2 separate regions of the Homo sapiens genome follow, and region 2 is linked to region 1. The links come from fine-mapping of genetic effects on gene expression. A gene starts in region 1. The other region holds a variant in brackets. All regions are shown on one strand. Distances are from middle to middle. Region 1 holds the start of WDR5B-DT (WDR5B divergent transcript). Region 2 overlaps KPNA1 (karyopherin subunit alpha 1).

Region 1 (8,000 bases):
CCCAGGCTTATGCACTTGTTCATCTGATCTCCCAAACCAGAAACCCTGGAATTATTTCAAATTCCCTTGCTCCCCTCTTTTAATCAATCATCCTGTCCTGTCAACTTTACTTCTAAATATTTCTCAAATACACTGATCCTCTAGGATAGTCACTGAGAGGAATGAGAAATTGTCCAGTGACAGACAAATGAAATTATTAATAGGCCTCAAGATTAGAAGTCAGTTTTCAAAGAAGACATACAAGTGGCCAACAAACACACACAAAAAAATGCTCAACATCACTAATCATCAGAGGAATACAAAATATAACCACAATGAGATACTCTCTTAAACCAGTTAGAATGGCTATTATTAAAAAGTCAAAAAATGGCTGGGTACAGTGGCTCATGCCTGTAATCCCAGCACTTTGGGAGGCCGAGGCAGGTGGATCACTTGAGGCCAGGAGTTCAAGACCAGCCTCGAACATGGTGAAACCCTGTCTCTACTAAAAATAGAAACATTAGCCAGGCATGGTGGCACGCCTGTAATCCTAGCTACCTGGGATGTTGAGACATGAGAACTGCTTGAACCCGGGAGGCAGAGGTTGCAGTGAGCCAAGATTGTGCCACTGCACTCCAGCCTGGGCACCAGAGACTCTGTCTCAAAAAGAATCATGGCAAAGATGCAGAGTAAAGGCACAGCTTATACACTGTGGGGAGGAATGTACATTTTACAACCTCTGGAAAACAGTATGGAGATTTTCCAACTAAAAACTACCATTCGATCCAGCAATCCCACTAGTAGGTATCTACCCAAAGGAAATTATATTTTAAAATCACCTGCACTGTTTATCGCAGCACTATTCATAATAGTGCTGTTTATCGCAGCACTATTCGTAATAGCAAAGTTATGGAACCAACCTAAGGGTCCATCAAGAGATGACTGGATAAAGAAAATGTGGTGTATATACTTATATACATATCCAGATGACTGGATAATGTGGTGTATATACTTATATACATACACATACACATATATGCATACACACACACACATACACACCACAGAATACTACTCAGCCAAAAAAAAATAATGAAATCTTATCTTTTGCAACAACATGGATGGACCTGGAGGCCATTAAGTGAAGTAATGATACAGAAAGTCAAAAACCACATGTTCTCGTAAGTGGGAGATAAACAATGTGTACACCTGGACGTGGAGAGCAGAATCATAGACACTAGAGCCTTCAAAGGTGGGAGTGGGGTGAGAGATGGGAAAGTATTTACTAGGTACAATGTATACTATTTGGGTGAGGGTATACTAAGCCCAGATTTCACCACTATGCAATATATCCCTGTAATAAAAGTGACATAAATCCATAAAAATTACAAAAAGTTGCTCAAAAAAGATTGGTAGTCAGAAGCTGAATTCTAGATGTGCTTTTTCAACTATCTCATTTTGTAAATGTAGTGTATGAATCTCAAAATTTAACAATAGACAATTTTTAAAATACCAAACTGCCAAAATTAAAAGAAACCGTCTTTTTAAATATCCAAGTTTTTTGGCCAACTTGGCTCTACTACTTGATTTTCAAAGGGATTAGTGGTTACTCATCCACAGTTTAATTGTTTTGTCATTTTCTAATGCTGCTGATGCGATGAGGTTTTCTGTAGGATGACAAGCTGCTGAGATCACAACATCTGTATGGCCTTGTAATTTCTGCACAATCTCTTTAGTCTGAAGGTTCCAAATGTAAACCAGGTTATCCTCGGAACCAGACACAATCCACTTTCCACCAGTAACTGAAAAATTGGCAAATATGCAATATTTCTCATTCTTATGACCAGTGTATGTTTTCAGGCACCTGCCTCTGCTATAATCCCATAGTTTAAGAGTGTTGTCCAAAGTTGCAGTGAGAATGTATTTACCATTTGGAGAAAATTTTACAAAAGAGACAGGAGGGTTATCGTCATCAACGAGCGTTTTTAAACACTGACCTGATGCAGCATCCCAGATTCTACAGAGGCCATCATAGCTACCTGACACTATCAAGGACCCACTACAATTAAAATGAACAGCAGAAACTGGGTCAGAATGAGCAGACAAAGTCTTGAGACACTTTCCTGTTTTCACCTCCCATATTTTTACAGTCTCATCAAAAGATCCCGAGATTATAAGGTTGGATGGCGGATTGAAGTTACAACAAAAGACATAATTACTGTGCCCCTTCAGTGTTTTCAAACATTTTCCAGATCTCACATCCCATAATTTTAGAGTTTTATCATCTGAGGCAGAAACAAGACGACTGGAATCTGATGACCAGGCAACATCCGATATTTCCAAATTATGACCATAGAGTGTTTTCTCATATTTTCCATCATATGCTCCCCAAATTATGATTAGCCTATCAGCAGAAGAACTTGCTAGCCATTCTCCATTAGGACTAAACTTAACTGATGACACTGCTTCCGTGTGTCCCACAAGAGTACATTTGAGAGCATAGTTTGGGTTTTCAGGCACTTCCTTGCTCTGATTGGCCGATGAGGAGAGGGCCAACTGTGCTTTGGCGTCTCTTGACTCCTTGGTTGCCATGGCTCTGAAGCTCCAAGTTAGCAGGTGTACTAGGCGTTCAGCCCTGAACCAGGCAGTCCAGTACTTTGGCTTTCTGCCCAGCAAAATGAAGATAAACGCACAGGATTTTAAAATGTACAGTTTTGAAAGCTTAAAGTTTCTGGACAGTCTTTAAACTGTGAGACGGAATCAGCAGCACGGCTTGGACTTCAAGTTTTCATCTTTTTGTTAAGTACTTGAGAAATACTGTTAGAAGGATCCTGTGCGCTGTCAGCAAGTAGGACACAAATGTTCGGCATTCCGTTAATACATAAAGCCTTCAAAGCAGGGGCGACGCGAGGGGCACTCTCTACAGAAAGTATTCTTTCACCGCCGCCCCCCTCCCCAGGTCGAAATGTTTCGGAATGCTGAGCAGCCCTACCAGTCAGGCTAGGTACTTGAAGATGAATGAACCGCCGCTTTTAGCGGATTTCAGAAGCTAAAAGCCTACGAAGCCACCGAAACTGGAAACTCTGGCCTGTCGGCTACTTTTGCTCGTACCAGCAGGTGTGCACTGCCGCGTCAATCTCCAACAAAGCCGGAAAAGCAGCCTGGCGCATGTGCAAAGGAAGTCCCTCCTACCACTACCGAGCCGAGATGACCAATGGGAGACGGCCATCTGCGCCTGCGCAAAAAAGTCGCCAATGTTCATTTCCGGTCTTTTTCGCCCCGCCCTTCAAATGCGAAAGCGACTGCCTTCTTGGGTGAGTGCATTAGCTGGGTAGGGTCTGTCCCGGACCTAACTGGATAGTGTGGGAAGCAGTGGATCGTTGTTTCAAAAACCATTTCTTTTTGGAAATTGTCACAGAGAAGGACTAGATTTGCGGATGCCTACCTTAGCTGCAGGCTTAGGCCCACACCTGACGCGTAAGCTGCCTAAACGGCAGCTAACGTAGATCCACCCAGACGCCGGAAACGGGGGAAGCTCCTGCTTTGCATGGGTTCCGCTCCCTCCTGTTTGTTGTGGTGTGGAGCCAGGTGGCATGTGTGGCGATGGAGTCACGGGGCGGGTGACAGAATTTATGCCAGATTGTAAAATTCCTGGTTTAAGTTTCCCCTGGAAAAGTTTCGTAAAGGTTAAGAAACGTGTCTGTTGAGGTCCTTTAAAAGCCGGTGCTCTGCTGGGAGTAACGAGCAAACGTTTGTTTTAGCATCTACGGCTTAAGCTTCCATAGAGAAGTCGGTATCTCAAAGTTGCTTGAAACAGAAAAGGACAAAGAGGTTGGTGGAATAGGGTAACGGATAAGGTTACTCTTAAGGAGGTTTTAGAGAGCTTTCCCCAGTTTTAGGAGATGATTAATGGTCATGAAAGTGTGTAAAATATACATGCTATTGAAGTTGCAACGAAAGACATAATTACTGTGCCCCTTTAGTGTTTTCAAACATTTTCCAGATCTCACATCCTATAATTTTAGAGTTTTATCATCTGAGGCAGAAACAAGACGACTGGAATCTGATGACCAGGCAGACTTTTAAACAATAGGTTTACCAAAAAACTGGAAGCCCTACTAGTTTCTCCAACCTGTTGTTGCTCAGTAAAGAGTGCCCGAGGCCGAGCACTCACGCCTGTAATCCCAGCACTTTGGGAGGCCCAGTCGGGCGGGACACTTTAGGTCGGGTGTCCGAGACCAGCCTGACCAACATGGCGCAACCAATACTGCTAAAAATACAAAAATTAGCTGCGCGTGATGGCGCACGCCTGTAGTCCCAGCTACTCAGGAGGCTGAGGTGGGAGAATGGCATGAACCAGGAGGTGGAGGGTGCAGTAAGCTGAGATTCCACCAGTGCACTCCAGCCTGGGCAACAGTGAGACTCCGTCTCAAAAAAAAAAAAAAAAAGAGTGCCCAAGAAAAGCAGAAAAAACGTGGCTTAAAAGATTTTACTGGTGGCTGGTCACGATGCAAATGTCTCATCAGCGTCAAGAATTTAAAAGCACTTGGAAACAATGGGTATCCTATTGTATACTTATTAGGGATAATTGAAAGTCTTGGCCTTTATAAGGCACAACAGGCACCGTTAGGTCACCTGTAATAAACCGACTGTAGTTAAAATATCATTACTTTAAGACCCTACCAGTCTAGGGGGAAATTTAAATAAGAATTGGACAAATACTTTAGTCTTAGCTAGTGCATATTAACTGTATAAACACAGTGAGGTAGTCCTGAGAATGAAGACTCTAAAATGGTTTAGAGTATTTATTTCTATACATTAAATTACAACGGTTTTTAGCTATTAAGGTCTCCATGGACCTCCCCTTGTTAACACTTTTAGAAATTTTTTTTCCTTCAGCATATCTTAAAGTTCAGTTCTAACTAAACCCTGCTGCTGCTTTTCTCTTCCCATTAGCCTGGATTAGTGATTTTTGCTGAGAAGTTTAGAAACTGCACCAATTGAAAACTATTTCCATTTTTATTAACTCAATAAAAGGTAACGTAAAAGCCCCTTGGAGCACAGGAGCAGAATTTAATCATTGTTTCAAATAATTTAAATCTGCATTTTCCAGTAACTGTTGTATGCACTAGAAGAGTAAAATTTAAGAATCGTGAACACTTGACATGAAGGCTAGGATAGGGTATTAGTGCTGGAATATATTTAGCCCACCACAGCTATCACAAGCAAGAGAGAGGGGGGGACACAATAAAGGATGTGTTGATAGGAAGATCCGGAAGTTATTTTTCTTCAGATTTTCCTAAAATCTGAAGAAATTCCTATTAACAAAATCCATTTCTTGATGTCTGGGATTTGTTTACAAATAGCATTAGGAACATATGCAAACAAAATCAAGGCTATGAATATAACTAGTTTTTTTTTTTTTTGAGACAGAGTTTCGCTCTTGTTGCCCAGGCTGGAGTGCAGTGGCGCGATCTCAGCTCACTGCAATCTCCATCTCCCTGGTTCAAGCGATTCTCCTGCCTCAGCCTCCCGGGTAACTGGGATTACAGGCATGCGCCACCATGCCCGGCTAATTTTGTATTTTTAGTAGAGTCAGGGTTTCTCCATGTTGGCCAGGCTGGTCTTGAACTCCCGACCTCAGGTGATCCGCCCGCCTCGGCCTCCCAAAGTGCTGGGATTACAAGCGTGAGCCACCGCGCCTGGCGAATATAACTAGTTATGTTCTATTGTTTATTCATTCATGTTCTGATATTAACATGTAGTCCTAACATTGTAGTCCTTAGGAAATTAGAACTAAGATTTTCAGTTTACTTGCTTGGGAGGATCAGCGACATTTCGGTGCAGGAGCACGGAATACTGATACAGGTAAATCCGAAGTGGCAGAACAGAGATTTGCATTTTGGGTTCCTTATTTATTCATTTATGAGACGGAGTTTTGCTGAATACTGATACATGTAGGTAAATCCAAAGTGGCAGAATAAGAGATACGCATTTTGGGTTTCTTATTTACTTATTAATTTATTTATGAGACGGAGTTTTGCCCTTGTCGCCCAGGCTGGAGTGCAGTGGTGCCATCTCAGTTCACTGCAGCGTTGCCAGGGCTCAGGCGATCCTCCCACCTCAGCCTCCCACAGGCACCCGCCACCATGCCCGGCTACTTTTTAAAATACCTTGTTGGCTGGGCACTATGGCTCACGCCTGTAATCCCAGCACTTTGCGAGGCCGAGGCGGGTGGATCACCTGAGGTCAGGAGTTCTAGACCAGCCTGGCCAACATGGTGAAGCCCCTTCTCAACTAAAAATACAAAAATTAGCCGGGCGTGGTGGCAGGCGCCTGTAATCCCAGCTACTCAGGGGGCTGAGGCAGGAGAATCGCTTGAACCCAGGAGGCGGAGGTTGCAGTGAGCCGAGATTGTGCCATCACACTCTAGCCTGAGGGACAAGAGCGAGACTTCATCTCAAAAAAAAAAAAAACAACAACAACCCTTTGTAGAGACAGAGTTTCACTACATTGCCCGGGTTGACCAAGCAAAATTTCTTACATGGTCTCATTAACAGTTTCTATTTCTGCTGCCCTTAATCTTTACCATCTAAGTGCTTTGGAAGTTTCCTCCCTACAGAAATCAACTAGATTTCTTTAAATTTCCCAGACATCTTAGAAATGAAGGCCGGGCGCGGTGGCTCACGCCTGTAATCCCAGCACTTTGGGAGGCCGAGGCGGGTGGATCATGAGGTCAAGAGATCGAGACCATCCTGGCTAACAAGGTGAAACCCCGTCTCTACTAAAAATACAAAAAATTAGCCGGGCGCGGTGGCGGGCGCCTGTAGTCCCAGCTACTCGGGAGGCTGAGGCAGGAGAATGGCGTGAACCCGGGAAGCGGAGCTTGCAGTGAGCCGAGATTGCGCCACTGCAGTCCGCAGTCCGGCCTGGGCGACAGAGCGAGACTCCGTCTCAAAAAAAAAAAAAAAAAAAAAAAAAAAAAAGAAATGAAAGTCTCTTATCTTAATATAGTTTAAAGGTGTGTTTCCCTTGCCCCTCAGTATTGTAAATATCTAAACAGATGTGTTGCCACAAATGGGGCAATTTTTAAATTTAAAAACAATTTTTTTTTTGTATGTGTGCTGGACCAAACCGTGGCATGGGAGTGATTCCCACATTAAGGAATGTCTCAACATCCTTCATAGCAATTCTTGACTACCAAATCCAGTCTCAATATCAAGCATTAATAGAACTATGTATACCTAGTTGCTTAAGACCATTAGCCAATGTATGAAAATCTAGTTGGGCTTTATAAATATGGAGTGGCCACGTAACATTATCTAAACTGGGACATTTTTAAAAGTGAAAGGGGGCAGTAAAATAATTCACAGGTGTTAGCTGATCTCCAAATGTAAACTGGGGCTGTGCCCAGCAGACACTACTTTTGACTTCCCAAGAGGACACTCCTCATAATCGTAACTTAATCTTGCAACCATTTCACACTCTGGTAGTTTACACCTCAGCCTGCGCAGGTCTCTCCCAAACCTGGTACTGTTCTCTCACCACCCATTACGGTCTTTTGCGTTTCTGTTTTCTCCTTACCCATCACTGTATCTTAATAATGCCCAGCCCAAGTGATGGGTAAAGCAGTGATCCTTATTGAGGACTCCCAGCGGACTACATTGGCCTTCTGCAGGTTAAGTGGATATGAATAAGAATGAGTAATTTTACTTTCTGCAAAAAAACACAGAAATGACTGTATATTAATTTAAAATTAGAGAAAACAATGACTCCTTCAAAATGCAAGTGAAATGGGGCAACAATCATTCAAGCTATCTTTAATAAACTTGTAAACCCAGTGATTTTTTTTTTTTTTTTTTTTTTTTTTTTTGAGATGGAGTCTTGCTCTGTCAGCCAGGTTGGAGTGCAGTGGTGCAATCTTGGCTCACTGCAACCTCCACCTCCCGGATTCAAGCGATTCTCCTGCCTCGACTTCTTGAGTAGCTGGGATTGCAAGCTTGTGGTACGATGGCTGGCTA
Region 2 (8,536 bases), 26 kb after region 1:
CCGGCTAATTTTGTATTTTTAGTAGAGACAGGGTTTCTCCATGTTGGTCAGGCTGGTCTTGAACTCCCGACCTCATGTGATCCACCTACCTCAGCCTCCCAAAGTGCTGGGATTACAGGCAGGAGCCACCACGCTCGGCCAGGTATTTCTTTATAGCAATGAAATAACAGACTAATATAAACCCTAAGTCACCAAAATAAATTTGCAACTACTTAAGAGTAAATATTTTTAAAAGAAATCATAAAGCAGAATATTAGAAAATAGCTGACTTGGGGATGGTAAAAGACTGTATGTATGAGCATAAAAATAAAGAAATTATAGGGGAAAATAAAAATTTCATGAAACATGTTTTCATGTCAAAAATCGTAACAGATTTTAAATGTACACCATCCACTGTGAAAAATATTTGCAACAAATGAGAGGGTTGCTATGTGTAAACTGAAAAGAGAAACTAAAATTTTAATAGAAAATTATCTCCTAAGTAATGAAAGAAATGCAAATTAAAATGAAGTCTTTTATGCCTATTAAATAGGCAATAGGATTTCATTAGCAAAAAGAGGGACTGACACTGCACATAAGCTAGAAATGAAAAAATGCAGAGACAAGCTATTACAAAGTACTGTAAGAACAGACTACTGAGGCTATTTTATTTTAAGAAACATAGTCTCGTTCTATCACTAAGGCTGGAGTGTGGTGGCATGATCATAGCTCACTGCAACCTCAAACTCCTGGGTGCAAGCAATCCTCCTGCCTCAGCCTCCTGAGTAGAGTAGGTAGGACTACAGTTACATTCCATCATGCTCAGCTAATTAAAAAAAAATGTTTTTAGAGATGGGGTCTTGCTATATTGCATGGGCTGGTTTGGAACTCCTGGGCTCAGGCAATTCTCTCACCTCAGCCTCTCAAAAAGCTAGGAATACAAGCATGAGCCAGCATACCTGGCCATGATGAGGCTATTACAAAAGAGTTCTATGCCCCAAAAATAATAGGCTAGAAAGAAGAATGAGACTAAAATCTTAAGGAGAAATTCCTTTGAATCTTTCAAGTTTCTTTATCTTACAGGCACTAAAGCAGCTTATTATTTCTAGAGGAAGATAATGCAAATAACATTACTTTAGGAAAGATTCAGCTGTTATTAGGGGGAATAAATTGAGAAGAGTAACTGCTTAGGACAGTCGGAGGATGGATGGGTACAGCAACAACCTGTGTGTGTGACAAGGACCAAAAGTACGTAATTTGATGGGGATCTAGTAACAATAACAATCAAGAAGACCCAGCAACTTGCTATACAAACTATAAGGGAGGGAGACACCACATGTAACTGCAAAGTTTCATGTGTAGGTAAAGAGAATAGTTATATCATTACCTGAAATAGGAAAAATAAAAACTTGGAACTTGCCTTGTGGGGGAAAGAAGATATACTGTGAGACAAACGTGAGATATGCAAGCAGAAATATGTAAGAAACTACTGCAGATATAGGACTGAAACTTGAGATAGGTCAGAAGTAGATGTAGAGATTCAGAACTTCATTGCATTCAATAAATATTCTTTAAGTCCCTATATATTGTGCCAGAAATTATTAGATTTACAGAGGCACAGAAATAAACACTGACATAATCCACCTCTAGAATCTTAAAATCTAGTAATTAGTTACAATACAATGTGATTAATATTCTGATGGATAAAGAAAAAAAAATAAGTACCTAACTTAAGAGTTTAGGGTCAAACAGGGCTTCTCAGAGAAAATAATGTTAATACCAAGACTTGAAGAACAAGAAAACATTAGGAGCAGAGAATGTGGATATGTGTGAGGTGGCAGTCAGAGCAAGGGGTAGCAGTGGAGACACATGTTCCAGGCAGAGGGAATAAAGCATGCGTTAAAACTCTGAGCTGAGAGTGGCCACAGCCAATTCAAGGAACAAATATGGCAAAAGCATACAGCATATGGAGGTGGGTGAGGGACAGAAAGATACTGATAGGGTTCAAAAATTCAGAGGGTATAAAAGACTCCATAGTTGTTAAAAGCCTCTTTCCCCTTCTTGTATCCCAGCCAACCAGTTCCCCTCAAAGACAACCAACATTTTCAGTTCCCTGTATATCCTTCCAGAGAAATTTTATGCAAATATAGTCAAACATATATTCTTTTCTTCTCCTATTCTCTTCTGAAGTGTCTGAACTAAGCCCTGCAAAGGATGAATAGAGACAGAACAACAGGACTTAGTAACTGATGATGGAGTTGGAGGAGAGGAAAGAATCAAGCTGATGTCCAGGTTTCAGGGGAACTGATGGTGCCATTCACTGATACAGGGAACATAAGCAGAGGTTCAGGTAATGCAAGGGGAAATGAGTTCCCTTGTGTACAGAATATATTTAAAGTAAATACATTACAGTTAGAAGACACCTGAGAGAACAAATCTAATCTCCTTAATTTTAGAGATTAGAAAAGGCATTAAATGTATTGCTGAAAGTCAGAACTGGTGAAGAAAACGCTAAGGCTAAAACCCAATTCCCAATTCTGAATCCATGCACACAAGGGTAATCACTGACATTATAAATAAGATCTATGAATGAGGCAGAAGGATTGCCCCGTGGAAGATGTCCACAAAAGGAGACAAGAGGAAAAGGAGCTTGCTAGGGAGAAATAAATGGTCGATGAGGCAGAAGAACTAAAAGACTTCAACATCACAACACAGCTGAGATTTCAGGAAGAAATATGGCTAGAACAATGCACTGTGAATGGTGTGTCTTGATACAGAAGTTGAATAGAGTAGATGGTGACATTAGAAAGTAGGAGGGAAGAATCTTCCTCACACAGGGGACTTACCATGTACAAAAGGAGAAAGCTATCAGAGAAGGTGATATTGAGATGAAAAAGACAGAGAAAAGATGCTACTAGAGGATTCTGATGCCCATGAGAACTATTTCAAATAGGAGTGAAGAAAAACAAATCTGCCTGACCAAAAAATAGTCACTATCATAGGACAACCCCAAACTACTACAAGCAACAGGTCAAGTCAGAGATACTAAAGGTATTGAGAGTAGATGCCTAAACCAACTTTTTTTTTTTTCTTTGAGCTGGAGTCTCACTCTGTTGCCCAGGCTGGAGTGCAGTGGTGCGATCTCGGCTCACTGCAACCTCTACCTCCTGGGTTCAAGCGATTCTTCTACCTCAGCCTCCAAGTAGCTGGAACTACAGGCGTGTGCAACCACGCCCGGCTAATTTTTTGTATTTTTAGTAGAGATGAGGTTTCACCATGTTGCCCAGGCTGGTGTCGAACTCCTGAGCTCAGGCAATCCGTCCGCCTCAGTCTCCCAAAGTGCTGGGATTACAGGCGTGAGTGACCGCCCCCGGCCCAACATTTTTAAACATTAGTGTAACAGAGTATCAAGTTTCCCTAATAATATGGAGTAAAATACGATAATAGAAACATGATCATGAAGTTCAATATACTGTTTTTAAAGGACAAAAAAAAGTTACCACTTCTTCATACCTGTGTCTGAATATCATCCCCTGTGACAATGTTTCCCACAGCTCGCAAAGCAGGAGAAACCACTTTATAATCATTATGCCTGCAAAAACAAAAAGTAATGTTATAGCAAACAGTTCTATCCTTAGTTTCATTTCCTTCCAAGACCAAAATTAAAAAACAAAAAAATTGTGATAGAATTTTAGAGCAGAAATGTACCCATGGGGCTAATTAAGGGAACGCTTATCATGATGATGGAATGTCTGGTGTTCCCTAGAACTGTCTTTCCCCTTATTTTAGTACATTTGGAAAAAACTACCAATCTTTCCTAGGAATCTTTCCCAGGTATTCCATCACCTGGATTCCAACTTTTCCCTCTCATTCTTTAGTATAGGTTTCATTTCCTCTTTACTGGCTTTTGTATGGTTGCTGAGATAATTGAGAGCAATAATTAACATTTACGCAACATTTTTAAGTTTTATAAATTGTCTTAATTTTCAGAC[G/A]TAAAAGTGACACATCAACAGCTGAACTAACTTGAAAATGCAAGTCAGGAGTCACACTCTAAATACAAAGGTCTTTCAACTAAACTTACTAAATAAGCTGCCTTACTGGTCCAAAAACCACTCCACAAAGCCATATATATATATTTGAAGACAGATATTAAGTCCTTATTTCTAGCTAAATTAAGTCACTATCTTTTGATTTTCCTTAAGGGTCCTATTTTTCCCTCCACTTTAATGAGACCGATCACTCTTCTAAAAACTAAGCCAGTTCCTTCAAATTTAACATGTGATGATTAAAAAGAAATGGCTGGGTTCCGTTCCAAGATAGCTGAATAGGAACAGCTCTGGTCTGCAGCTCCCAGAGTGATCGACGCAGAAGACGGGTGATTTCTGCATCACCAACTGAGGTACCTGATTCATCTCACTGGGACTGGTTGGACAGTGGGTGCAGCCCACGGAGGGCAAGGTGAAGCATGACAGGGCGTCGCCTCACCCAGGAAGCACAATGGGTCGGGGGATTTTCCTTTCCTAGCCAAGGGAAGCTGTGACAGACTGTACATGGAAAATCAGTACACCCCGCCCAAACACTGTGCTTTTCCCACAGTCTTAGCAAATGGCAGACGAGGAGATTGCTCTCCCATGCCTGGCTCAGCGGGTCCCATGCCCATGCAGCCTTGCTCACTGCTAGCGCAGCAGCTGGAGATCGACCTGCAAGGCTGCAGCCTGGCGGGGGGAGGGGCGTCTGCCATTGCTGGGGCTTGAGTAGGTAAACAAAGCAGCCAGAAAGCTCGAAATGGGTGGATCCCACCGCACCTCAGCAAGGCCTACTATCTCTATACACTCCACCTCTGGGGGCAGGGCATAGGCTGAACAAAAGGCAGCAGACAACTTCTACAGATGTAAACGTCCCTGTCTGACAGCTCTGAAGAGAGCAGTGGTTCTCCCAGCATGGTGTTTGAGCTCTGAGAATGGACAGACTACCTCCTCAAGTGGGTCCCTGAACCCCGTGTAGCCTATTGGGGGAACCAGCCCCCAATATTTCAATGTAGGTTCTTTTCTATTTTCTCTAAGTGTTGGCCAGTCTAAGAAATAAAGAGAAAGAGTACAAAAGAGAGAAATTTTACACCTGAGTCTCCGGGGGTGACATCACATGTCGGCAGGTTCCGTGATGCTCCCAAGCCACAAAACCAGCAATATTTTATTAGCGATTTTCAAAGGGGAGGGAGTGTACGAATAGGGTGTGGGTCACAGAGATCACATGCTTCAAAAGGCAATAAAATATCACAAGGAAAATGGGGGCAGAGCAAGATCACAAGGCCAGGGTGAGATTAGAACTGCTGATGAGGTTTCATGTCCCACTGTACACCCATTGTCACTGATAAACATCTTAACAAGAAACAGTGTTTTCTAGAGCAGAAAACCGGTCTGACTAGAATTCGCCAGGCTGGAATTTCCTAATCCTAGCAAGCCTGAGGGCACTGAAGGAGACCAGGGCGTATTTTATGCCTTATCTTCAACTGCAAAAGACAGACACTCCCAGAGCGGCCATTTTAGAGGCCGCCCCCTGGGAATGCATTCTTTTCCCAGGGCTGTTCCTTGCTGAGAAAAAGAACTGAGCGCTATTTCTCCTATTCGCTTTTGCAAGAAGAGAAATATGATTCTGTTCTGCCCAGCCCCGCAGGCAGTCAGACCTTATGGTTATCTCCCTTGTTCCCTGAAAATCACTGTTATCTTGTTCTTTTAGAATGCCCAGATTTCATACTGTTCAAACACACCTTTCACAAACAATTTGTACACATAATGCAATCATCACAGGACCCTGAGGCAACATACATCCTCAGCTTATGAAGATGACAGGATTAAGAGATTAAAGACAGGCATAGGAAATTATAAGAGTATTGACTGGGGAAGTGATAAATGTCCATGAAATCTTCACGATTTATGTTCAGAGACTGCAGTAGACACGCGTAAGAAATTATAAAAGTATTAATTTGGGGAACTAATAAATGTCCATGAAATCTTTACAATTTATGTCCTTCTGCCATGGCTTCAGCCGGTCCTTCCATTCAGGGTCCCTGACTTCCTGCCTAACTGGGAGACACCTCCAAGTAGGGGCCGAGAGACACCTCATACAGGCGGGTGCCCCTCTGGGACGAAGCTTCCAGAGAAAATATCAGGCAGCAATATTTGCTGTTCTGCAATATTTGCTGTTCTGTGGCCTCTGCTGGTAATCCAGGAAAACAGGGTCTGGAGTGGACCTCCAGCAAACTCCAACAGACCTGCAGCTGAGGGAACTGACTGTTAGAAGGAAAACGAATAAGCAGAAAGGAATAGCATCAACATCAACAAAAAGGACACCCACACCAAAACCTCATCTGTAGGTCACCAATATCGAAGACCAAAGGTAGATAAAACCACAAAGATGGGGAGAAACCAGAGCAGAAAAGCTGAAAATTCTAAAAACCAGAGCGCCTGTTTTCCTCCAAAAGATCGCAGCTTCTCGCCAGCAACAGAACAAAGCTGGACGGAGAATAACTTTGACGAGTTGACAGAAGTAGGCTTCAGAAGGTCGGTAATAACTAACTTCTCTGGGCTAAAGGAGCATGTTCTAACCCATTGCAAGGAAGCTAAAAACCTTGAACAAAGGTTAGACCAACGGCTAACTAGAATAAACAGTGTAGAGAAGAGCTTAAAAGACCTGATGGAGCTGAAAACCATGGCACAAGAACTTCGTGACGTATGCACAAGCTTCAATAGCCGATTCAATCAAGTGGAAGAAAGGATATCAGTGACTGAAGATCAAATTAATGAAATAAAGTGTGAAGACAAGATTAGAGAAAAAAGAGTAAAAAGAAGAGTTTTCAAAAGAGTTTTCAACCAAGAATGTCATATCCAGCCAAACTAAGCTTCATAAGTGAAGGAGAAATAAAATCCTTTACAGACAAGCAAATGCTGACAGAGTTTGTCACCACCAGGCCTGCCTTGCAAGAGCTCCTGAAGGAAGCACTAAACATGGAAAGGAACAACCGGTACCAGCCACTGCAAAAACATGCCAAATTGTAAAGACCATCAATGCTGGGAAGAAACTGCATCAGTTAACGGGCAAATTAACCAGCTAACATCATAATGATAAAATGAAATTCACACATAACAATAATAACCTTAATTGTAAATGGGTTAAATGCCCCAATTAAAAGACACAGACTGGCAAATTGGATAAAGAGTCAAGACCCATCAGTGTGCTATATTCAGGAGACCCATCTCACGTGCAGAGACACACATAGGCTCAAAATAAAGGGATGGAGGAAGATGTACAAAGCACATGGAAAGCAAAAAAAAAGCAGGGGTTGCAATCCTAGTCTCTGATAAAACAAACTTTAAACCAACAAAGATCAAAAGAGACAAAGAAAGCCATTACATAATGGTAAAGGGATCAATTCAACAAGAAGAGCTAACTATCCTAAATATATATGCACCCAATACAGGAGCACCCAGATTCATAAACCAAGTCCTTGGAGACCTACAAAGAGACTTACACTCCCACGCAATAATAATGGGAGACTTTAACACCCCACTGTCAATATTAGACAGATCAACACGACAGAAGGTTAACAAGGATATCCAGGACTTGAACTCAGCTCTGCACCAAGTGGACCTAATAAACATCTACAGAACTCTCCACCCCAAATCAACAAAATATACACTCTTCTCAGCACCACATTGTACTTATTCTAAAACTGACCACATAATTGGAAGTAAAACACTGCTCAGCAAATGTAAAAGAACAGAAATCACAACAAACTGTCTTTCAGACCAGAGTGCAATCAAATTAGAACTCAGGATTAAGAAACTCACTCAAAACCGCACAACTACATGGAAACTGAACAACCTGATCCTGAATGACTACTGGGTAAATAACGAAATGAAGGCAGAAATAAAGATGTTCTTTGAAACCAATGAAAACAAAGACACAACATACCAGAATCTCTGGGACACATTTAAAGCAGTGTGTAGAGGGAAATTTATAGCACTAAATGCCCACAAGAGAAAGCAGGAAAGATCTAAAATCAACACCCAACATCACCATTAAAAGAACTAGAGAAGCAAGAGCAAACAAATTCAAAAGTTAGCAGAAGGCAAGAAATAACTAAGATCAGAGCAGAACTGAAAGAGATACAGACACAAAAAACCCTTCAAAAAAATAAATGAATCCAGGAGCTGGTGTTTTGAAAAGATCAACAAAATTGATAGACCGCTAGCAAGACTAATAAAGAAAAGAGAAAAGAATCAAATAGATGCAATAAAAAATGATAAAGGGGATATCACCACCGATCCCACAGAAATACAAACTACCATCAGAGAATACTATCAACACCTCTACACAAATAAACTAGAAAATCTAGAAGAAATGGATACATTCCTGGACACATACACCCTCCCAAGACTAAACCAGGAAGAAGTTGAATCCTTGAATAGACCAATAACAGGCTCTGAAATTGAGGCAGTAATTAATAGCCTACCAACCAAAAAAAGCCCAGGACCAGATGGATTCACAGCCAAGTTCT

What was found.
Region 2: its variant is fine-mapped to the expression of WDR5B-DT in whole blood (TOPMed, PIP above 0.99). The same link has a PIP of 0.9 or more in T cells, blood mononuclear cells, lung and nasal epithelium.

The regions. Positions count from the first base shown.
Region 1 is chr3:122,412,958-122,420,957 of GRCh38, forward strand. WDR5B-DT (WDR5B divergent transcript) reads left to right here and starts at 3,249. Exons shown (of 3, transcript NR_125405.1): 1 at 3,249-3,293. WDR5B (WD repeat domain 5B) reads right to left here and starts at 3,105. Exons shown (of 1, transcript NM_019069.4): 1 at 1-3,105. The coding sequence starts at 2,571. The coding sequence ends at 1,579. RefSeq lists enhancers at 2,650-2,849, 3,085-3,902, 3,120-3,359, 3,390-3,439, 3,600-3,799 and 1 more.
Region 2 is chr3:122,438,546-122,447,081 of GRCh38, forward strand. It overlaps KPNA1 (karyopherin subunit alpha 1), which reads right to left. Exons shown (of 14, transcript NM_002264.4): 10 at 3,493-3,571. It overlaps WDR5B-DT (WDR5B divergent transcript), which reads left to right. Exons shown (of 3, transcript NR_125405.1): 3 at 4,182-4,702. Among named protein-coding and RNA genes, the nearest start is that of WDR5B-DT, 27 kb to the left of the region's middle. The variant G/A (reference allele first, on the strand shown) is at 3,972.